3 separate regions of the Homo sapiens genome follow, and all the other regions are linked to region 2. The links come from fine-mapping of genetic effects on gene expression. A gene starts in region 2. Each other region holds a variant in brackets. All regions are shown on one strand. Distances are from middle to middle.

Region 1 (5,000 bases), 210 kb before region 2:
GCAATTGTTATATCCCAGGCATTTGCTGAACATTTAATTAACTGTCTTTCAATGTATCAGTCCTGTGTGGTGTAGGTACTATAACTTTCCCTGTTTTAGATTCTAACCTGGGCCTCTGATAACAAAGGAGCGAGGTGTCCTTCTCTGCTATCTTCTTCTTTCTTGATCTCTAATGTGTCTATACTTACATTTTATGCTTTAAAAGGTAAGGCTTCATGTATTTATGTAATGCATCACATATTTTCTACCCCACTTACACATACAGACACACACACACACAGAGAGTAAGTTAAACCTGATTTTAAATATGTTTAGTTTTCTCATCTAAACACAATTTCCTGTAAACTAAAGGTCGACAATATTTTTAGTCAAATTTTTTTTTGCTAAGTTGAAAATCCACGTAAACATTGCTTTAAATAAATGAATAGAATTTATATTTACATAGTGTTTTTTTTTAGGTGCCCAAGTAGACATAAAAGATAATTTTGGACGTAATTTTCTGCATTTAACTGTACAGCAACCTTATGGATTAAAAAATCTGCGACCTGAATTTATGCAGGTAATGTATATCTGTGGATTGCCATTAACTGAGTTGGGTTCAACAGAAAATAAACTAATTTTGTTTATTATAATTTTTGTTATTATATAAACTGATTCTGGAATTTTAAAAATGTTTTAAAATAAAGATGACATATTTGACTATTTAGTTACAACATGGTGATGGTGGTGGTGGTGATGATTATGACAATGATAATTAATTGTAGTGAGACTGAGTTTTTTAACTTACAAAGAAACTTAATATGCAGTCATCTATGATAAAGATAACATCCTTAATTAGTTTGATTTTCTTCATTCTTTGACCATTATGATTTGCATATCAGTGGAAAAGCCAAATATAAGAATGAATTATCAATACTCCACCATCAATTAAGAAAAATTACTCAGCATACTTGACTTTCTGAGGAGAGGTTGAAAGCATTATTTTTATATTTATATTCACCAGCTAATACTTACTGAGTGACTAGCACATGTATGTGAAATACATCATATTTTTATCATCAATAGATTTCAATATTGCCAGTATTTAATAATCAAAATATATATGTGTTTGAATATTTAAAAAATAACAAAATATTAATTGATAGGCTTAAGCTTCTCATTTATCATTCATTTTTTATTTACTATACATATAAAACATAAAATAAACCTAATGTTTACATCCCATCCATTTTACCTAACAGAACATATTAACATGAAGCTGTTGGGTGTTATTTGGGGGTGGGAGGAAATAAGAGGAGGGGCAGAGGGAAGGGCCATGATCAAATATATTTGAAAAATGCTGAGTTAAAAATGTTAAGTACATTTTCCTATTGGCATGATCTCTCAGATCCTTTAATACAGTAATGTACACTAATATGGTAATGTACACTAAATGAAGACAGAGCATTCAACTTCATTCATATTTATATTACTCTCAAATCCTTTAGGTTATTTACAATTTTGGCCCCAAGGAATACATATTGACCCTTGTTGGAAAATATTTTCCTACAGAATAGTTTGAAAACCATCATATTAGCATAATAGCAGAGTTATTTGTATGATATTAATTTTTTCCTATAGATGCAACAGATCAAAGAGCTGGTAATGGATGAAGACAACGATGGGTGTACTCCTCTACATTATGCATGTAGACAGGGGGGCCCTGGTTCTGTAAATAACCTACTTGGCTTTAATGTGTCCATTCATTCCAAAAGCAAAGATAAGAAATCACCTCTGCATTTTGCAGCCAGGTAAGGGTCAGTCTAGCAATGTATGAACATGTCTTCTTTCTGTTTAATATTTGCCTTGAAAATATGAAACCTAATTTTTTCCAAGTTATGGGCGTATCAATACCTGTCAGAGGCTCCTACAAGACATAAGTGATACGAGGCTTCTGAATGAAGGTGACCTTCATGGAATGACTCCTCTCCATCTGGCAGCAAAGAATGGACATGATAAAGTAGTTCAGCTTCTTCTGAAAAAAGGTGCATTGTTTCTCAGGTGAGGATATATGATTGGAGTGTTTATATAATTTCTTTAATTAGCCATTTTCAGGCTATCTTTTCATTATATTTTTAATTATGAGGTCTAACTTTATATCTCACTAAGTACTTTTATCCAATTTATTTTTTCATCAAAACATATGTAACTTCTAAAAATACTGAAAGGGAAGTCAGTATTATTTCCAACTGACAAAGACTTTGAAGTTTATAGCGTTGAAGAACCTTGTTCAAGAATATTCTGTTCACAGAATAATTGGCTTTGTGCAGTCTTTCTCAGAACCTTTCTTTGAAACATAGTTTCTCATATTTTACCTCATCATGCTGCCATATTCCTATATAGATACAAAACTGTGGTTGTGTATGTGTGTATGCACGTACACACACACACAAAACATACAAGTTCAAATACTCTACTTTTCATTCAATCTGATGAATGGTAGGCATAAAAAGTTCCCTTTAAGTGACAACAGGAGATGGTAAAAATTTCTGAATTTTATTATACTTAAATGAACTCAAGTACAAGAAACAAAGTTAAAATATGTAAGTATAATAAAATATGTGGCATAATTAAATGATATTGTGATAAGAAAGAAAAAACCTGGAAATGTTTTACAGAGGTTTTTCATTTGATATCTTACCATAGCAGTAGCAAAGAGCTTATTAGGCTAATGTTCAAAAACACATTTCCTTACCATAATATTGATGCCAGCAAATTGGTGCTACAGCTACATGAATGAATGTTTTGCTCAGTTTTTTCTGGTTTACAAAGAAACACCAAGCAACTGACCTGCAAAGGGGACCGAAGTAGACCCAGGCCAGACAGTTGTTGCTTAATTACATCATAACTGAAATAGCAACATGGCTCTTGCACCCTAAAACATCTGCTCACTAGCACTGAAATTAAATAGTGTCAAGAATTTTTTTCT[GTCTA/A]ATTTGAAAAAAGATAGCTAATATGACAAGGCTTTGTTGTATTTACATCTTGAATTTCTGTGGAAAAGGATAAACATTTTTCAAAGCAATTGAGTAAGCATTTTTCAGAGCACAAGAGGGAAGCTTTTTAGATTTAAACTCTTAGAATAATAACTGACACTAAGCTAAGCATCTTATAGCCATGTATCATATTACTAGTAGTATTACCAATAACTATTGACCACAAAGACTAACATTACTTCATAAAAAAATTTTGATACAGTGTTCATTGAAAGAATAAAACAAGATTTAAATTGATGTGTATCAGTTCATTATAGCTTTAAAAAAATTAGGTATGACACAGACATGCTAAGCGTACTTCTCCTACCCCAAAGTGTTTGGTAATGTGTTTATATACTTTCATATTTTAAACCACTAAGTAAAAAACGTGTATGAATCACATTAGAAATAGGTCATTTAAGATCATTGAGCTTGGAATTAGCTCATTTATTATAAATGTTTTATAAATATTTAGTTGCCAGATCTCAATAATGCTTTTTGTTGTCATCAGATTTACCTAGAATAAGCCAAGTGGCATCCCATCCCGCATTTCATCTGTTAAGTGTATGCACACATCTTTTCTTAACTCTTTACCAGTGACCACAATGGCTGGACAGCTTTGCATCATGCGTCCATGGGCGGGTACACTCAGACCATGAAGGTCATTCTTGATACTAATTTGAAGTGCACAGATCGCCTGGATGAAGACGGGGTATGTACTGCGGTCCTCATGCTTACCCAAAATCTCAATATAGCAGAAACTTCCAACATTGCCAGAAAACTCTCCTAGACACCTTTTACCTTCCTTGCTCTATTCCCAGCCTTTTGTTGGGTGTTTAGCAAGTGGATTCTTGAGGTGAAGTATGAATCAAAAGGCAACAGAATTGGGAGAATACCAAGGGGTGGGTGAATGTTGGGGAAACCTCCAGTCTCACAGAGCAGCGAGGTCCACAGGCCAATGAAATTTGATGGTAAAGCGTTTACTCCCTGGTAGGTCCAGAGAAATGAAGGCAGGGGTGAGTTTTCATTAAGATAAGTGTTATTTTGAAGTGTATTGATTTGAAATGCTGCCCTTTATTGTGCTATTATGTCTTTCCTTCCTTTGGGGAGAGTAACTTTTGAAATGTACGTTTGTTCATAAAATGATGGGGATAGAAGACTGTTGTTGCCTTTTTCAAAAAAAAAAAGTCTTTAAGTGGAGAAACTAAAAATGGGCAAACTTATAACAGTCTCTGATTTTAAAAAACATTTACAAGCTTGTGAAGCCCCAAATCTGTAAGCCACTGTTCTACAAATGATCAATCTCAGGAGGATTTTCTTCTGTGTTCAACCCAACATCTTTACCCTGAAAGCTTGTCCTTTGTCCTTGTGGAATCATCCCATTGCAAAAGCAACACAAAACAAATGCCTTGGAATTCATTCTCTCTCTCTCTCTCTCTCTCTCTCTCTCTCTCTCTTTCTCTATCTCTCACACACACACACACACACACACACACACAGATCCACTTCCCACACATGCACACACACCATGCTAGAACTATAAACTCATTATTTTGAAGCTTGATTCTGAACACCAGTTTTAAGTGCTATGTATTTTGGTATTAAATAGTGTCGCTAATGTCTTTTAAGCAGTTAAGCAGTGAAATAAGACAGATTAGACACTGTCACCACGTTTTCTGTGTCTGTTTTTCTTCAAAAGAACACTGCACTTCACTTTGCTGCAAGGGAAGGCCACGCCAAAGCCGTTGCGCTTCTTCTGAGCCACAATGCTGACATAGTCCTGAACAAGCAGCAGGCCTCCTTTTTGCACCTTGCACTTCACAATAAGAGGAAGGAGGTTGTTCTTACGATCATCAGGAGCAAAAGGTACACTGTCTTCCTGTCCACTGTCATTTAGTGTTCTCTGGTGTTGGGATGATTTGAAGTCTGAGACAAAATAAGAGAAAAGAAATGATTTTCAGCCATTAATCAAAATTTAAAATATCAGTT
Region 2 (7,953 bases):
AAGCCTGGCTTTTCCACCTTCAACCTCCACAAACCATCCAGGCACTGGCTTCTCCATGCTAAGGCCTCATGACTTTCGGAGGGAAGGGTAAAAAATCTTGCTGCAATCCTTAGATAAATAAACCAGCAGCAGAGGCCTGTTTGTGTTGTGGATGACAAAGGACTCCACATGTAGGCTTTGACTATTTCCATGGATGCCCAACCTGATGGCTGGTAGAGCCCGGGTGAAGGGAGTTTTCTTCCTTTCCTGGTCTGAAGAGTGGTGGCATCCTGCACAACACCAGGACAGAGGCTGCCCTGAGCCTGGAGCAGAGCCCAAGGCTTTGTGCAGACAAGGGACAGGCCTTGGGTTATCCAGACCTAACCCTGGGTCTTACACGTGACCTGTCCCCACCTGACTGGCTCCCCATGTGACTAGCATGCCACGTGGCCAACACACACTGGGACTAGCATTCCATGTGACTAACACACCACTGAGGAGGAGCGTTCATTTTCCCAGCACGTGTGTGTGTCTGGTGGGGTGTGTTATAGACAGGAGGTTGAATACACGTGGTAAGACGCAGTCTGGATAATACAGAGAAGCTTATTTCCACAAGAATGTGCCCTCCCAGTGGGTGAGAGTGGGTCTCACCAACACCTTGCCACAACCAACAGTAGATACTCAGTCCATAGGGGTATAGTTAATCCATGAGATTAATCCCTGAGTTGTCCAATAGAAATATAATGGGACCGGTATATTTAATTCTACATTTTTAGTAACCATATGATAATAATTTTAAATGGTGAAATTAATTTTTGTAATATATTTCATTTAACCTAATAGATCCAAAATGTCCTCACAGATTGACATAAATTTATATTTTAAAATATTAATGAGAGCTTTTATATTCTTTTATTCATAGTAAGTTTTCAATACTGGTTATGCATTTTACACTATAGTACCTGAATAGCCACATTTCAAGTGCTCAATAGCCTAATGTGGCTAATGGCTTCCATATTGGCCAGTGCTGATCTAGATTATTCATTTTCCTAGATCAAAAGTATAGGCAATTGGCCGAAGGTATGGCAATTCCTCCAGGCAACAGGAGGCTGTGGGTTGGTCCCACTGCTGTTTCTTAAGTACCTACTCACTACATAGTTTTGGCATGGCCTTCACAGAGGACAGAGGAAGCCTTTGCTCTTCCTGAGTCCTAAGTCCACATGACCTACCCAGTTCTAGAGTTTCTCACCCATTACTTAATATGCTGTTGGAGGAAGGAAGTGGCAACAAATGGCCTTTTTTCTATGATGTGTAATTATCATCCCATCTCATGGCTCCCTTTTTAAAAAACAAACCAAGCCTGCATTGTTAAATGTTTCAATCTGTTAGGCACTGATCTGTGTTCCACCTGGGCATGCTCCTTTGACCTACACCACACCACCAGCAGGATTTCTGGCTTAATCCTTTATGCCAGTAGGGAAAGTAAGGCTTGGAAAAGCACTGCAATTTTAGGGTGAGAGAATTTGGGGGACGAAAAGAAAATTTCTAACGACGTCCCATCCATTTTTCCCTCAGTGAAGTCCCTCATGGGACCTGTGAAAAATGTCATGTGATGAGACCATGTACTTCAGACCCTAGCAGCCTGTAGTCAAAGCAAATGAAAGACCCTGGTACTATCTGAAACCCAGAATAGGCCCTGGAGTACAAAACTTGGGTCAGGTCATTGCCCTAACTTTTACTAGCTGTGTGATATTGGGCAAGGCAATTCATAATACTAACTAGCATTTACTGATCTTCTCCCATGTACCAGGCTCTGACCTAGCCAACTGCTCATATACTTTCTCTTCCGCTCAGAGAGATAATCCATTTTATAGATTAGAAAACTAGGGCTCAAAAAATGCAAATTCCAGAAGTCATATATCCAGCAAGCACGGAAGCCAGGATGAAGAAATATTAAAGGTAATATTAAAAGAATTATTAAATATTTTGTTTTATAATGCAACTTAAGCCCTACTCACCCCATTGAATATTTTTTAAATGTCACTAAAGAATTTCAAGACCATTGATGTACACACAAACAGTCTATACCTGTTTCACATCTAAGAGTTTGTAAAGCATAAGCAAATAGGAATTGATTTCAGTGTGTTTATAAGATAAAAATAAAGGCTGTATTATTCATTTCAGTATGTCACTTGTCAAAACCATGAAAAACACTGGGCTTTCAAAAGAGAGAGTTATACTTACACTGTTCAGCTCGAGAAGCTGTTGTAATCATCCAAGGAGAAGAAAAAGTAATAGCACTTTGAAAGTGGAAGGAGGTGACCAAATGCCAGATATTACAAACATGTTAAAGCAAACTGCAGTTATATGCTTATAAAAAATGCATATAAGGTACATTTCCTAACCTTCATTACCAGTCTGCAACTTGAAAACAGAGTTACAAGTGAAAATATAACTTAATTTCACAAAAATGAAAGAAATGGAGGTTAAATGAAAGATGATGAAACAAACAAAATAAAATAGCTGACTTTCTTGAAAGCGAACAGAGGGAGGGTGAGGAGATGGAGTAGAAGAGAAAGGGAGGGAAGTAGGGAGGGAGGGGAAGACAGAGAAAGAAGACAGGGAGGGAAAGGCGAGTGCTGTGAAAAATAAGCCCGAACTGGTGGGGTCAGACCATTTCTTCAAGAAATAAAGAAACTGGCCATGACCTCCTCAGCGTTGAGGCTGGGTATAGTTTTTGTGACTGTTTAGAGAAATCTAGCGCTCTCCTCACCATTAATCTTTTCTAAAGAAAGACTTTGTTCTGCACCTGTATAAACAATTCAGATTTTAAAAACCTATTCGCCTGCCCCTAATGTGTGAGACTATATATTTATACTGATAGCTTCAAGTCATCAATAGTCGTTGCAGAGAGCTAGCCTGGCTCTCCTCGGTCCATCTCTTTGCCCCTCTTTGTCGCTCTCCTCTCCTTCACCTGGCAAGGCGATCCTAGAGTCAAGTTCAAGTTCAAACGCTCCAGGAAAGATTTCTACACTCTGTCAAATATTCCCTGCATTTCCCTACCCTAGAGAGAGCTGAGGGCAAATGATCTTTTTATTCACATTGTCCCAGAACCAGCCCACCCCCTGCCCCCAACCAAAAGACAACTTGTACAGGGAGAAAACCTTTGCAAATGTGGGTGAGCCGGAGGGGTTATGTGAAACATTCCCCCGGCCCCAAAACGCCCCTGCTAAGGGTAGCGTGGCCTGGGAGACTAAGGTGGAATGATGCCTGAGTGATGAAGTCAGCCTCTGCCAGCCACCTGTTGCAGCACTTCAGCCATCGAGCTGGACGCATTTGTTCTGCTGTACGAACTGGCGGGAGCCAGGCTGGCCCAGCTATCTCTGCCAGCTCTGTCCTGGACTGACTCCACATAGGTCCCCTTGCACCTTGCTCAGCTTGGGAGCCTGTGGACTTTCAGGAAAAGAACAAGTGAACACCTAAGCCTGTGTGACGACTCAGTTTCATCATTGTAAAATGGGGTAACCATATGCCAAACTCATACGGGTTTTATTACTCAGTGAGCTGCTCACAAGCCGCGAGTACAGTGACGGGCACACAGCGGGCACTCAGTCTCTGACCACTGGGGCCCGTATCCACAGACGTACTTATCCCCTGACCAGGAACTGCGATGACCTTCGAGTTAGGAAATAATGAGACTGCAAAATTGTTGTGTTTTCTTGTGTGGAAGAGCAGGATGTTTTAGTCTTGTTTGGAATGGAACATGATCATTCAGGGTGCTCCTTTGTCGTTTTTACTTTGAATGGACGATTGTGCTAACTTAGCATTCTGCTTCCAGGAGCTCGCTCTTCAATACACAATCTATTAAATACAATAGCAAGGATTCCCTACATTATAATGCAAAGCTTTAGGGCCGGATCCTCCAACACACGCATTGTGGTATTAAAACAAAATCACATCACGCATGGAACTCTCAAGATAGTGGAAAATACCAGCTACAACATCCAGTGATGTGTGACCCGGAGGCACGGAGCTGACTAGAATACCGACGGGCCAGAATTTCAAAACGCGGATTTTGAATCTTTTTTTCTACTTAGCCTAATAAGTTTGGGTCTTTTACTTAACGTCTATCTAGGCGGCTCAGCTTCAAGTTCTGCAAATTGGAGATAATATCATTAAGTTACAGATGTTATTTGAAAAGGCAACGAACCATTGTAACCATTTTTGTAAACCATGAAGGTATATTATAAGAAAAGGAGGAGGAAAATGAGAGGTAACTTGTGCATTGTTGGATGTTGTTTGCCTGTTCTGCTTTTTCTCTTGTCCAGCAAGGCTTGGGTAGACAATCATACATCATGAATGGTTAACTTGAAAACTGAGTTCTACTGGAAAGACTGGCAGGCAAGCAGAGGTCGGAATCCCGTCGTTTCTAAGTGTCTGGTAATCTTTGCCACTGCTAAGATTACCTGGGGGTAGAAGCACCGTCGGTAGGAACAAGATGTGCCCCTTCACTCCCCGAAAGCTCACTTATCCTGCGCAGACATGTTGAAGGGCCGTCGGGCTTCAGAGCCCAAATCTCGGCTCTGCAGAGACGTCCCCTTCCCCCGCCTCCACCAACCGCTCTTCGGCATGCAGAAAAGCGGTCCCCACCCCTTCCACGCCCCTGCCCCACCTCTTGGCCCCCTTTACAACCCCCTCTTCTTTGCCCGGGGTGGTTTGTTCCAAGGAGTACAGATAGCCTTTTCAAAAGGCGCAGCTTACCGCGGTGCGCGCGGATTCTGGACTTGGGCGCCAACTCGTAGTCCACGCTCCCCGGGGTCAGCAGAGGGGCGCTCACGCTCTCGCCACCCACCTCGCTTTCTCACCCCGCGCTTCCCGGCCTGGGTTTTTAGTCTTCCTTGGAGCGCTCTCTGGCCTCCGCCTCCGCCAGGGAGCGGAAGGCGGAGACAGCGAGACTGGCCAGGGGGGAGGAAAGAGGACGCGTGTGGGCAAGGGGGACAACGGGATGTCCACGGGCTCGGTGAGTGATCCGGAGGAGATGGAGCTTCGGGGGCTGCAGCGGGAGTACCCGGTCCCCGCCTCCAAGAGGCCGCCCCTCCGCGGCGTAGAGCGCAGCTACGCCTCGCCCAGTGACAACTCGTCGGCAGAGGAGGAGGACCCCGACGGCGAGGAGGAGCGCTGCGCTCTGGGCACAGCCGGCAGCGCGGAAGGCTGCAAGAGGAAGCGGCCCCGTGTGGCTGGGGGCGGCGGCGCAGGTGGTAGCGCGGGCGGTGGTGGCAAGAAGCCCCTCCCGGCCAAGGGCTCAGCCGCAGAGTGCAAGCAGTCGCAGCGGAACGCGGCCAACGCCCGTGAGCGTGCCCGGATGCGCGTGCTGAGCAAAGCCTTCTCCAGGCTCAAGACCAGCCTGCCCTGGGTGCCCCCCGACACTAAGCTCTCCAAGCTGGACACGCTCCGGCTGGCTTCCAGTTACATCGCTCACCTGCGGCAGCTGTTGCAGGAGGACCGCTATGAGAACGGCTACGTGCACCCAGTGAACCTGGTAGGGGCGCGGCGCGCAAGGATTCGGGAGAGCAGCCAGGAGATACCCAGGGCGCTCCTGGGCGCCGGGCAGGGTCAGCCCGTTGGGAAGAATTCGAAAGGGGTGGAGGTTCTGGGACTGGGAACGAGAAGGCCAGTTTAGTTTCTCCCAAATCAAGGGAGTGGCCAGCCATTTCCCTGAAGAAGAATCAACCCTCCGTGTCTGTTTGCATCGTTCTGAACATTGTACCCCAGTGACAGCCATTGACTAATATCCTACTTCCAGGGTAAATCTTGGTTCCATCTCCATCTGCCACCAGGTTGCAGACTGACGGCAAATCTCCCTTGCCCAACTTAATCCAGCTGAGTCGGGCAGGTTTGAATCGGCAAGCCCTTTCTTAAAGGAGGGAAGGCCGAGCTCTATAAAAGAGCATTTGCATTTTTAGAAAAATTGCTTGTGGAAGATAGTAACGTTTCCCCAGATGGGATTTATCTGGAAAGTCCCTCTCTGATCTGCCAGCTCTCCCGGCTTGGGAAAAATCCTGTCCAAGCCCAGTTCCTACTTGGAGCTTGGAGTGGATGACTGTGTGTGTGTGTGTGTGTGTGTGTGTGTGTGCGTGTGTGTGTGTGTGTGTTGGGGAAGGGAACTAAACGACAGAACCTCAAAGTCAGATGAGTTTCACCAAATTATCCTGCGGGCAAAGTCCAGGAAGAAGCGTGAACGGATATGGCAAGTCTCGGATTATCAACCTCCAGTAAAATGAAAATCTTAGTTCAGAGAGAGGACATGCAAATTCCCAGAATGCTGATAAAATCTTAGCTACTCCAAGTCAGGAATATCTGGGGTTCGCGTAGGAGAGCTGTTTCGGTTTGAGACAATCGTTTCTCTCTAATATCTCACGTTCTTTTTGATTTACAGACATGGCCATTCGTGGTCTCGGGAAGACCGGACTCTGACACCAAAGAAGTTTCCGCAGCCAACAGACTATGTGGAACCACCGCTTAAATCGGACTGGAACTCACTTGATGGGATTATTCGTTAAATGCGAGTGTTTGGGGGCCACGGAGAGAAGGGAGAGCTCGTGAGATGGGAAGAAGTTTCCGCTGGATTCTCCTTGACCCTTCCCCTTTCCCTGGAACTGTGATCGTGACAGGTGGCGGGTGTGGCTGTCACTGCACAGCGCCCACGGCTACAGCTGCGCCGGATCTGGGCGACCACGTTTTGCCTCTCCAAAAAGAGCTTCCTTTCGTGACGAGACGCGGACGCAGGTCCACCCTCGGGCCCTAGCTCTGTAGACTAACTCTCGGCTGCTGCCCCAGCCCGCGCCAGACAGCCCACGGATCCGTTCTCAGCGGAGCCAGATTCATCGCACACGTGCGGGACGGTTCCACACAGCCCCGGCCTTTCGCGGTGACACAATGGTTAGGGAACGGTTAGAACGCGCTCTACATCCGCTTTAAAGACAGAGGTCTAGACGTGAGATCCGCGTCGGGACAGGGTTTTAAGTGACAAAGAAGGGCGAGTGGCTTCTCTGGGCCGGGTTCGTACTCCAGCACAGCGCCCTTCTAACGGGCGGGAGGAAGGCCGCTGCTCGCAGGGCTAGGTGGAGACACACTTCCCAGATCACCGCAGGCGGGTTTTACCCGGAGAGCTCTGGGCCGTTCGGCCTCCCTGCCGGGTGGCTTCTTCAATCCCGTCTCCTTCCCAAGCTCCCGGCTTTTTCTAATCAGGCAGGCGTCTGTCAACCCTCTCCACTTCTGGGCTGAAGCCTCCCCAAGCCCCGCTGCGCCAACCTGTGTGGGGTCTTCTTCGGGCCTCCCTCTCCGCCCCGCTCCTGCTCCTACCTGCAGCACCCCCAGCTCCGACTCCAGACTCTCTGCATCAGGTCTCCCCACTCCACGCTCCGGGCGCCCCAACTCCAACACCACGTCCTGCCGCGCAGGTTCTTCCCCGCGCGGAGGAGCGCGCAGGGTGGGCGGCTTACCATAGCAAGTGATCCTGCGATAGGGAACGCGCCCTTGCCCCGAGGCTGCACTACCACAGGAAATAACATATGTAAATAAATTTATTTTTTTATGAATAATAAAACGCGCTGTAAAAACCGTGTGCCCCTTGGAGGTGTCAGGATGTGGTCTTTGTTGCCCTTTACTAAGAGGGTTTGGCTGTAGAAGTTAACTTTTAAGGGCTGATCTCCTCTGGTCAGGGCGGTGGGTCATTGCGGGAGGAATGGTGGCGATCACTTTTGGATCACTCCATTTCCAAACGTCATTCTTTATTAATCTCTATGATTCTGCTGCTTCTCCGCGCCGGGCTTCCTGGAAGGCCATAACTGGAGGCCTAATAAAAGTCCTGAGTCTTGAGGCCCCTGCTGTCCTGACAGACATACACTCCTCAGGCTAACATAGGTGCACGTCTCTCATACACACACACACACACACACACAACACACACAGCAG
Region 3 (11,473 bases), 27 kb after region 2:
ATCATGTGGTTTTTGACGTTGGTTCTGTTTATAGGCTGGATTACATTTACTGATTTGCGTAGGTTGAACCAGCCTTGCATCCCAGGGATGAAGCCCACTTGATCATGGTGGATAAGCTTTTTGATGTGCCGCTGGATTTGGTTTGCCAGTATTTTATTGAGGATTTTTGCATCGATGCTCATCAGGGATATTGGTCTAAAATTCTCTTTTTTGGTTGTGTCTCTGCCAGGCTTTGGTATCAGGATCATGCTGGCCTCATAAAATGAGTTAGGGAGGATTCCCTCTTTTTCTATTGATTGGAATAGTTTCAGAAGAAATGGTACCAGCTCCTCCTTGTACCTCTGGTAGAATTCGGCTGTGAATCCATCTGGTCCTGGACTTTTTTTGGTTGGTAAGCTATTAATGATTGCCTCATTTTCAGAGTCTGTTATTGGTCTATTCAGAGATTCAACTTCTTCCTGGTTTAGTCTTGGGAGGGTGTATGTGTCGAGGAATTTATCCATTTCTTCTAGATTTTCTAGTTTATTTGCATAGAGGTGTTTATAGTATTCTCTGATGGTAGTTTGTATTTCTGTGGGATCGGTGGTCATATCCCCTTTATCATTTTTTATTGCATCTATTTGATTCTTCTCTCTTTTCTTCTTTATTAGCCTTGCTAGCGGTCTATCAATTTTGTTGATCTTTTCAAAAAACCAGCTCCAGGGTTCACTGATTTTTTGAAGGGTTTTTTGTGTGTCTATTTCCTTCAGTTCTGCTCTGATCTTAGTTATTTCTTGCCTTCTGCTAGCTTTTGAATGTGTTTGCTCTTGCTTCTCTAGTTCTTTTAATTGTGATGTTAGGGTGTCAATTTTAGATCTTTCCTGCTTTCTCTTGTGGGCATTTAGAGCTATAAATTTCCCTCTACACACTGCTTTAAATGTGTCCCAAAGACTCTGGTATGTTGTGTCTTTGTTCTCGTTGATTTCAAAGAACATCTTTATTTCTGCCTTCATTTTGTTATGTACCCAGTAGTCATTCAGGAGCAGGTTGTTCAGTTTCATGTAGTTGAGCGGTTTTGAGTGAGTTTCTGAATACTGAGTTCTAGTTTGACTGCACTGCGGTCTGTGAAACAGTTTGTTATAATTTCTGTTCTTTTACATTTGCTGAGGAGTGCTTTACTTCCAACTCTGTGGACAATTTTGGAATAGGTGTGGTGTGGTTTTGAGAAGAATGTATATTCTGTTGATTTGGGGTGGAGAGTTCTGTAGATGTCTATTAGGTCCACTTGGTGCAGCTGAGTTCAATTCCTGGATATCCTTGTTAACTTTCTGTGTCGTTGATCTGTCTAATGTTGACAGTGGGGTGTTAAAGTCTCCCATTATTATTGTGTGGGAGTCTAAGTCTCTTTGTAGTTCTATAAGGACTTGCTTTATGAATCTGGGTGCTCCTGTATTGGGCGCATATGTATTTAGGATAGTTAGCTCTTCTTGTTGAATTGATCCCTTTACCATTATGTAATGGCCTTCTTTGTCTCTTTTGATCTTTGTTGGTTTAAAGTCTGTTTTATCACAGACTAGGATTGCAACCCCTGCCTTTTTTTGTTTTCCATTTCTTGGTAGATCTTCCTCCATCCCTTTATTTTGAGCCTATTTGTGTCTCTGCACATGGCATGGGTTTCCTGAATACAGCCCACTGATGGGTCTTGACTCTTTACCCAATTTGCCAGTCTGTGTCTTTTAATTGGAGCATTTAGCCCATTTACATTCAAGGTTAATGTTGTTATGTGTGAATTTGATCCTGTCATTATGATGTTAGCTGGTTAGTTTGTTCGTTAGTTGATGCAGTTTCTTCCTAGCCTCAATGGCCTTTACAATTTGGCATGTTTTTGCAGCGGCTGGTACCGGTTGTTCCTTTCCATGTTTAGTGCTTCCTTCAGGAGCTCTTGTAGGGCAGGCCTGGTGGTGACAAAATCTCTCAGCATTTGCTTGTCTGTAAAGGATTTTATTTCTCCTTCACTTATGAAGCTTAGTTTGGCTGGTTATGAAATTCTGGGTTGAAAATTCTTTTCTTTAAGAATGTTGAATATTGGCCCCTACTCTCTTCTGGCTTGTAGAGTTTCTGCCGAGAGATCCGCTGTTAGTCTGATGGGCTTCCCTTTGTGGGTAACCCAACCTTTCTCTCTGGCTGCCCTTAATAATTTTTTCTTCATTTCAACTTTGGTGAATTTGACAATTATGTGTCTTGGAGTTGCTCTTCTCAAGGAGTATCTTTGTGGCGTTCTCTGTATTTCCTGAATTTGAATGTTGGCCTGCCTTGCTAGATTGGGGAAGTTCTCCTGGGTAATATCCTGCAGAGTGTTTTCCAACTTGGTTCCATTCTCCTCATCACTTTCAGGTACACCAATCAGACGTAGATTTGGTCTTTTCACATAGTCCCATATTTCTTGGAGGCTTTTTTCGTTTCTTTTTATTCTTTTTTCTCTAAAGTTCTCTTCTCGTTTCATGTCATTCATTTGATCTTCCATCACTGATACCCTTTCTTCGAGTTGATCGAATTGGCTACTGAGGCTTGTGCATTCGTCACGTAGTTCTCGTGCCTTGGTTTTCAGCTCCATCAGGTCCTTTAAGGAATTCTCTGCATTGGTTATTCTAGTTAGCCATTCGTCTAATTTTTTTCAAGGTTTTTAACTTCTTTGCCATGGGTTCGAACATCCTCCTTTAGCTTGGAGTAGTTTGATCGTCTGAAGCCTTCTTCTCTCAACTCATTAAAGTCATTCTCCATCCAGCTTTGTTCTGTTGCTGGTGAGGAGCTGTGTTCCTTTGGAGGAGAGGAGGTGCTCTGAATTTTAGAGTTTCCAGTTTTTCTGCTCTGTTTTTTCCCCATCTTTGTGGTTTTTATCTACCTTTGGTCTTTGATGATGGTGATGTACAGATGGGGTTTTGGTGTGGATGTCCTTTCTGCTTGCTAGTTTTCCTTCTAACAGTCAGGACCCTCAGCTGCAGGTCTGTTGGTATTTGCTGGAGGTCCACTCCAGACCCTGTTTGCCTGGGTATCAGCAGCAGAGGCTGCAGAACAGGGGATATTGGTGAACAGCAAATGTTGCTGCCTAATCTTTCCTCTGGAAGTTTTGTCTCAGAGGAGTACCTGGCCATGTGAGGTGTCAGTCAGCCCCTACTGGGGGGTGCCTCCCAGTTAGGCTACTCGGGGGTCAGGGACCCACTTGAGGAGGCAGTCTGTCCACTCTCAGATCTCCAGCTGTGTGCTGGGATAACCACTACTCTCTTCAAAGCTGTCAGACAGGGACATTTAAGTCTGCAGAGGATTCTGCTGCCTTTTGTATGGTTATGCCCTGCCCCCAAAGGTGGAGTCTAGAGAGGCAAGCAGGCCTCCTTGAGCTGCGGTGGGCTCCACCCAGTTCGAGCTTCCCAGCCGCTTTGTTTACCTACTCAAGCCTCGGCAATGGTGGGCGCCCCTCCTCCAGCCTCGCTGACGCCTTGTAGTTTGATCTCAGACTGCTGTGCCAGCAATCAGAGAGGCTCTGTGGGTGTAGGACCCTCTGAGCCAGGTGCAGGATATAATCTCCTGGTGTGCCGTTTGCTAAGACCATTGGAAAAGCGCAGTATTAGGGTGGGAGTGACCCAATTTTCCAGGTGCCCTCTGTCACCCCTTTCTTTGAGTAGGAAAGGGAATTCCTTAACCCATTGTGCTTCCCGGGTGAGGTGATGCTTCTCTCTGCTTTGGCTCATGCTCGGTGCACTGCACCCACTGTCCTGCACCCACTCTCCAACACTCCCCAGTGAGATGAACCCAGTACCTCAGTTGGAAATGCAGAAATCACCCGTCTTCTGTGTCTCTCATGCTGGGAGCTGTAGACTGGAGCTGTTCCTATTCGGCCATCTTGGCTCCACCCCTCACAAAGACAATATTTTTAACATGTTTTCTTGCCCTTGGAGCAAAGAACAGCAAAGACTAGTTGACTTAATCTGATTTGAGGCAAAACTCTTGACAGGCATTAGTAACCTGAATGTATATTGCCCTCTTGTGGCCATAGTGTTATCACAGGAATGTAGGTGTGTCCATGAGAAAGAACTGTAGTAATTTGGGGAAACTGTTTGTATAATACTATGGTTGTTATTACGATGTACAGATTTTAATTGCTTCATTGTCCCACCATCAGCTATATACATACATACATAGGTACACAGACACACAACTCTGAATCCTATATTAACAAAAATGTGCACATGAATTTTTGGAAGTTTTCAAACTATAAGTAACATCTAAACAGCCCAGACCCCATGTTTTCTTCCTTGCTTATTTCTTAGGAAAAGGGCTCTTTGACAAGAATTTTGAGGTTTTTGTTTTTGAATACAGTTTTAATCTTATGTTTCCTTTTGGTGTAATCTGGAGCCATGGTTTCCAGACTTTTTGATTTCCCAGAAGAAAATTCCAAAAATATTACAAATGATATTGGTGATTTCAATTATTTTTGTTTTGCCAAATTAGACATTTAAAATAATTAGTTTCAAACTACTATCATCATAATTTCAAAAAATAAAGTGCATTCTAACATTCAGGAAAAAATGTAGGGGCGATGTGATGACTATTGTGGCTTCAGTTTTTCTCCCTAATGGCCATCACAGGTGGGCGGCAGGAGGTGAACATTTAGAAACCACTGAGTGATGGCACAAGCCAGGTGCATTGGGTTATTTTCCAGTTGACTGGTCATTAGCTAAAATTAAGACTGTATTGATATGAGACAAAGCACAGAGTGTAAATGTGGGTCTTCAAGGATTTCTCCCTTTCTACAAAAACCCTGTTTCTCCCTCCTTGCATCTCAGTTTGTACTGCTGTGGGGACTGCCAGTTCACAGGTTGCTATGGGTGTTTTCTCCACTCACACTGCCAGGCCCAGGCTTGGAACTGTCCCTTGGCTTGCCTGATGGCACCTTCTTGATTTCTTCCTCCTGCCCTGGCCACTTCTAGTTAGTCCCTTTTGCAGGCTCAGCATTCCTTGCCAGAGCCCAATGTAATCCCTATGATGATCATTTGAAGGCATGAAGACACCATCACATTCATCCTACGGATATTTTCCAAGCTGAGAACCATCAAGTCTTTCATCTGATCTTTATTCATCATTACACTCACTCTCTAGAGTCCTAGTTGCCCTCCCTTGGATGTGCTCAAATTTGCAGATGCCATTCTCAAGGAGCAACAGCATCAGGTACAACAGACCCTGCCTACTGCCTCCTTTGCTCTGTTTATTACATTCTTACTAATGCAGCCCAGGATTTTTGGGTTGACAAGCACATTATTTTCCATTTTTATTGACTTAATTTAATTGTTCTTCACACATTTCACTGTCAATCTCTTTAATCTCTCCTCGTACCGTTGTTGCATCTTATCTCAATTTTGTAGCTTTGCACATATGTTCATGTTAAACTAGCAAAATTAAAATGGCCTTTAAATTTCTTTCGTCGTGGGCCCCAATTAAATTAACTTTGGGATATCTACCCACTGGGTGTGAAGTTCTATTAATTTCTCAAATTTGCTTCCCTGTTTGGGAGGCTGAAGGAAAATGTGCCTTGAAGAAGATTTCCATAGTTCAGCAGCAGTTTGGGTATTTGACAGAGAACAGAGGAGCTCGGCTTATTTTAAACACTGGAAATTGCCTCATCAAAAGAAATCCTAGACAACAAAAATACTTTGCCTCTCTGATGGAATAAAGGTGTATTTGTTTCCTAGGACTGTTACAAATTATTATAAACTCGGTGGCTTAAAATAACAGAAATTTATTTCTCTCTCATAGTCCTAGAGGCTAGAATCTGAAATCAAATGTCAGCAGGGCCGAGCTTCTCCTGACAGCTCTTGAGGAGGGGCCTTCTGTTTCTTTCAGCTTTTGGTGGCCCCAAGCATTCCCTGGCTTCTGGCTGCACAATTCCACTCTCTGCCTCCATCTCCACGTGGCTGCTGTCTTTTGTAAGACACTTGTCATCAGATTTAAGGCCCACCTGGATAATCTAGGATGATCTCATCTTGATATCCATAATTTAATTATATCAGCAAAGAAGACTTTTTTTACCAAACAAGTTCACATGTACAAGGTCCAGGGAGTAGGATGTAACATTTCTTGGGGGCCCCCATTCCACCTACCACAATAGGCCATCCTATTGCCTCGAGTTACATGGTTACCAAGGATTCTGGGGCTTGGCTATGTAGTCTTAGTTTTAAAGCCCATCAGTCACCACCAGTTACTCACCCCACCTCACAGTTTCTTTTTCTTTTCTTCTGTTGCATCTAGCTTGTTGAATCTCCCTAGGGTTGGTGAAGTTGGATTTTTTGACACAGAAAATAAATTTTCTGTGTGGTCTCCAAACAAGCTAT[C/T]GGAACTCAATTTCAATTTCTGATCTGTCCTTGTTACTGAGCAGTTGTATTGTGACAGTAAAAGTTTTGTGGGTCTAGCATGAATGACATTATCACTAGGAACATCCTAGGCTGCATATGTACAGAGGCCTGAGAAGTGAATACCACAGAGTCAAGTTTTCACCTGATGTAAATTGTGAGTTTGGTTTCTGGATGGGGAACGTTTATTAGGTATGAGTTTTACAAATATCTTCCCCTCTTCTGATGCCTGTTCTTTCCCCTTCTATCAATTCATCACCTTTTTGAATGGTATTCTTTGAGGAACAGAAATTTGTAATTTTACTGTAAGCAAATATATTTTTATTGTTATGCAGCAAGGAATAAGTTTCAGAAACATACAACATAATAATGCTATGTATAGAGAATTTAAACACAGGCAAAGAAATGCCATATGTTGCTTGGAGATACACTCATATGTAGCAAAAGTGGAAAAAAAGTGCATAGGAATAGAGCACCAAATTCAGGTTGGTGGCAAGAAATGGGTGCAATTCAGGACAGAAACACAAAGAACACTAAAGTTACTATTAATATTTTTGGTTTTTAAGCTGAATGGCAAATTTAAAATTAAAGAAGTTTGGAATTCACTACCTCTTCTCCTGCTGGCTTTTTCTACTTGGGGGGAATGTGTTAACTTATAGAATCATTAATGTCACTTTCAAGCTTAACATCAGTTTTGGCACTGAACATGCAACAACGCTCTCTATCTGTGAATTCTGATGGGGCATGAGAACTGCACCAACTTAATCACTGCTTACTTCTTCTGTGTTATTGGGGAAAATTGTGGGGTATATGGAAAAGGGAAAGAAAGCTTTCCTTTATTGACGTATATTTCATAAAGATTTTCCATTCATAAATATTATATACTGTGCTTCTAGAACAAAAGTTGAAAGTGATCATTTGGTAGTGAATTTTGTAGACAGATATCATTAATTTGTCTTTTCTTTTTCTTGTTTCATTTATCCCCAGTAAACACTCTATGTGCAGTTGAGACATTCTCCTTGGGATGGATTCTTATCTCACAAAATGCTCACATGCCTTTTTCCTGACTTCAGTTGGGAGAAGCAGACTTTCACAAAGAAAATCCCCTCTGAAGGCTGAGCAGAAACAGGTGCCTGTGTCCTCTCTAAAAGTTGTATTTTGGTGCCGTAGTAAATCAAGTCAACAATTAAATGAACACGTATTGAGCACCTGCTTCTGAGGTGCTTAGCACCAGATATGCTCTCTGTCCTCAGGAGTGTTCACTCTGGTTAGGGAAGAGTGAGGAAGGAAGGGTAATATTACTATAGACTAAATGCTTTTACCCACCCAAAATTTGTATATTGAAGCCCTAATCCCCAATGTGATGGTATTTTGAGCTAAGGCCTTTGGGAGGTGATTAGGTCATGAGGGTGGAGCCATCATTATGAACTTAATGCTCTTAGAAGGAGGAACATGACAGCTCTCTCTCTCTCTGTCTTCTCTTCTATGCCCTTCTCTCTCTCTGTCGTGTGAGAAAACTAGAAAGAGAGCCCTTACTAGAACCTGACCATGCTTGATCTCAGACTGTCAAGTCTCCAGATGTCTGTTGTTTTAGACACCCAATCTGTGGTATTTCGTTATAACAACCTGAGCTAAGACAAACATGTACAGCAATTCTTATAAAGGCAGATATGCTAAATTCAAGCTTCCTTCATTTTATTCTCATTTTCTCAATACCTTTCCTCCTTACCTAAGATTAATACCCAGAAGCCAATGCCAACTCTTCTAGTCAAGGGCACTGAATAACTCTCAAGGGCCATTGGGTATTTGCCCAGTGGCTTGTGAGTGACCTGCAGTGCTTCTACTTTCAAAAGGGCAGAGACACAGTGTATCACAACAACTCTAGCAATTCCACACAATAACTTTCTCTCTTCAAAAGGAATTGCTGAAGAGTGAATTGCTCATTGGACAAGTCAGACCCAGCTCTAACTTGGTCAACTGGTTTGCTCCCTGAGAATAACTAGGTGGATTTTCCCATTGGTTATTGCCAAATTGGAAGGATGTTGGTGCGGCTTTAATGATCCCTAGAGTGGCTAAATTGTTTTAGGAAAAGATGGACTGTGGAAGGACTTGCTCATTCTGTTGAGCATTTAAAAGAGATGCATTATCCACAGGTGAGATCATCCTTACCTGTTCCTTCTTTTGGAGGGCAGAGTTCACGATGACTAGAGTTTACATGATATGTGATTAATTCTCTGCATAATCAGGATTTGCAACATTCTGTTTGCTCCTACCTGATTCTTTCTGAAGAAGAAAAGAATAAATTTAAAAATAAGTGTATTATCATGGAGCATTGAGAATCATCCACAAGTGTAACTTTGGTTAATTAAAAATCTTTTGTTAAAAATATACATACATATATAATTATGAAAATCATAATAGTTAAAATAATGAAAATAATAATTAGAATCAAGTACTTGGTTTTAATATATATACAAGCAGGTAAATAACAATTAAGAATAGTAATTACTGAATGCTAGAACCATGCTGAAGTTGTTTCATAGGTTATTTTCATTGAATTCTTACAATAACTTTCTGGGGTGAAAAATATTTATCCACATTTCACAATGAAATAAAACAAGATTCTGGGAAGTTAAATTAAATGCCAAGGGCTGGGCGTGGTGGCTCACGTCTGTAATCCCAGCACTTTGGGAGGCCGAGGCGGGTGGATCACTTGAGGTCAGAAGTTCAAGACAAACCTGCCCAACATGGTGAAACCCCGTCTCTACTAAAAATATAAAAAATTAGCCAGGCATGGTGGCAGGCGCCTGTAGTCCCAGGTCCTCGTGAGGCTGAGACAGGAGAATGGCGCGAACCCGGGAGGCGGAGCTTGCAGTGAGCCGAGATCGCGCCACTGCACTTGAGCCTGGGTGACAGAGCGAGACTCCGTCTCAAAAACAAACAAACAAACAAAAAAATTAGCCAGTCCTGGTGGCACGCCTGTAATCTCAGTTACTTACTTAGAAGTCTGAGGCAGGAGGATTGCTTGAACCCGAGAGGCAGAGGTTGCAGTGAGCTGAGATTGCGCCACTGCAATCCAGCCTGGGTGACAGAACGAGACTCTGTCAAAAAAAAAGAAAAAAAAAAAAAAAGGCCCAAGAGCCTGGAACTGCTGAGTGCTAGAGTTGAGATTTAAACCCAGGCTACCTTACTTCATGTTCATGCTTTGACTACTTCACTTCACTGCCTTCTCCAGAGGATTTCTCCCCAAAGAACCTTGCTTTTGTGCATAGCTCTTAGTTCAGAGGGGCACTAAGGAAGAGAAAATGTCATATTTGCTTATCAAAGAAGTTATTGGGAAATCTAGCCAAATGGGTAAAGAAGTATATCAGTCATGAGGAAAAGAAGAATTGGCAATGAAGGAAACTGGCCAATCTTATCTTCACACTTATCTCTTCATGGGTCCGTGGCTTGCTGTGCCCTCTCCTCGTCCCACTCACTCTTTGCACCGCTGAAGAAATCATCAGTAATATTCTTCAGACTCAATATTTGTTAAGTGCCTCTGTCTTGCAATTAATAATTTCTATGAACATTAATCACTGGATATCTGACATGCTTCAGTTCAAAGACTATGGCCCAAGTGTTTATGAGCCATTTCCATAAAACAAGAAATGGCTGGTTTTACCTGAATAGTTGCCCTTAAATCCCTTAAAAATCACAGGGTGTATGTTTTTACCTGGTTTAATAGATGAAGGACTATAGTTTTTGCTTCCTGATCCCAAATTTCAATGAGTTTTCAAAGAAAGGCTCATAGACATGGCTGTATCCATGCACAAAACTCCGAAGGTATGTTTCTTCATAAGATCACTGTAAGTTGGGGGCTTGAAACCTGAGACAGATTTTAAAAGTCACTCTTCTCCTCCCTTTCTGTTTGACTACTTGTCTTCCTATTTTCTGTCTTATTAATAGTACTAGCTAATATTCCTTGAGTGTTATATTGTACCAGACCCTAAGCCTAGAGGCATGAGCTCTCAGAACAACCCTATGGGATGGGTACACTTGAAAAGATTGCTGCTTAGAGACCTTCAGTCACTTGCCCCAAATGACACAGCAGCAAGTCAGTGGCAGCACCTTTGCCTGAGCTCAGTGTTTCACTCCAGAGCCTGCACTCCCAGTCACTCATGCTGCTGCTCCCCCTCAAAGGCTGGAACTTTATAGCTTTTAGCATTTCTCCTTTACCCCTTGTCTCATTAGTCCTGGGAAGCATTGTTGGGGAGTATGGATTTCACACCCGGCATGAAAGAAAAAGGGCTTCGTGAGTAAAGTGAGAGAAGTGTGAGAACATTCCATGCAATCAGGGCAGCTACTTTGGTAGTTCTAAGGACGTGAACTTTCATCAGCTCTGTGATCCCAAGTTCAGGGACGAGGTGAATGCAGGAAAGGAAAGGGGAGGCGAGGCTATGGGGTTGGACCTAGAGTCATTCGTGTTGACTCCTCCTGTGGACTGTGTTTCTCAACCCTTTAAAGCAAAAATCAACCAAATTCAATCTGCACTTCAAAAAGGTTTTGCAATGAGCCACTCATTTTATTTATTCATTCAGCATGCATCTTGACCCAGCAATTAGATATAAGGTACTATGCTTAACATGAGAAATATCAAAAGGAATAGAACGTGTGCCCGACATAAAGGAGCTGTCACCCAGTGAGGATGGTGAACGGAAGGGCAATGTAAAGTGATAACAAACAGCATGGCTTAGAGAAGGAAAGGAAATGGGTTGACATCTGCAACCCAAACACACAAGCTGCGTAATCACAGGCAAACCATGTAACTCCTCTAACCCTCAGTTTCCACATCTATACAATTTCACACTTATGAATGGGGGGATTGGAAATAATGCTTATGAGATATATCACAGAGTTCCTATCATGGTATCCAAAGTCAACAACGTTAGCTGTTATGGTCATTATGTCAAGAAATAGTTGCCTTTTATTATAAGTCCTATAATGGAGGTACATTTTATCATGGAAAACAAATTCTGCGATGATAAGGAAGATGTCCCAAAGCATCAAAAGATTTGATACAAGATGTAAATAATTATACGTTTGACAGGCAA

Evidence for each region.
Region 1: its variant is fine-mapped to the expression of MSC in whole blood (INTERVAL, PIP 0.97).
Region 3: its variant is fine-mapped to the expression of MSC in whole blood (TOPMed, PIP above 0.99).

The regions. Positions count from the first base shown.
Region 1 is chr8:72,052,476-72,057,475 of GRCh38, reverse strand. It overlaps TRPA1 (transient receptor potential cation channel subfamily A member 1), which reads left to right. Exons shown (of 27, transcript NM_007332.3): 10 at 459-559; 11 at 1,621-1,790; 12 at 1,876-2,040; 13 at 3,609-3,723; 14 at 4,711-4,877. MSC-AS1 (MSC antisense RNA 1) reads right to left here. Exons shown (of 5, transcript NR_033652.1): 5 at 1,164-4,937. Among named protein-coding and RNA genes, the nearest start is that of TRPA1, 21 kb to the left of the region's middle. The variant GTCTA/A (reference allele first, on the strand shown) is at 2,969.
Region 2 is chr8:71,841,210-71,849,162 of GRCh38, reverse strand. MSC (musculin) reads left to right here and starts at 4,751. Exons shown (of 2, transcript NM_005098.4): 1 at 4,751-5,518; 2 at 6,416-7,603. The coding sequence starts at 4,985. The coding sequence ends at 6,502. MSC-AS1 (MSC antisense RNA 1) reads right to left here and starts at 6,040. Exons shown (of 5, transcript NR_033652.1): 1 at 5,459-6,040; 2 at 4,741-4,934. RefSeq lists silencers at 3,244-3,293, 5,133-5,402 and an enhancer at 7,098-7,953.
Region 3 is chr8:71,812,679-71,824,151 of GRCh38, reverse strand. It overlaps LOC124900257 (U8 small nucleolar RNA), which reads left to right and starts at 8,527; the gene lies at 8,527-8,658. The variant C/T (reference allele first, on the strand shown) is at 6,363.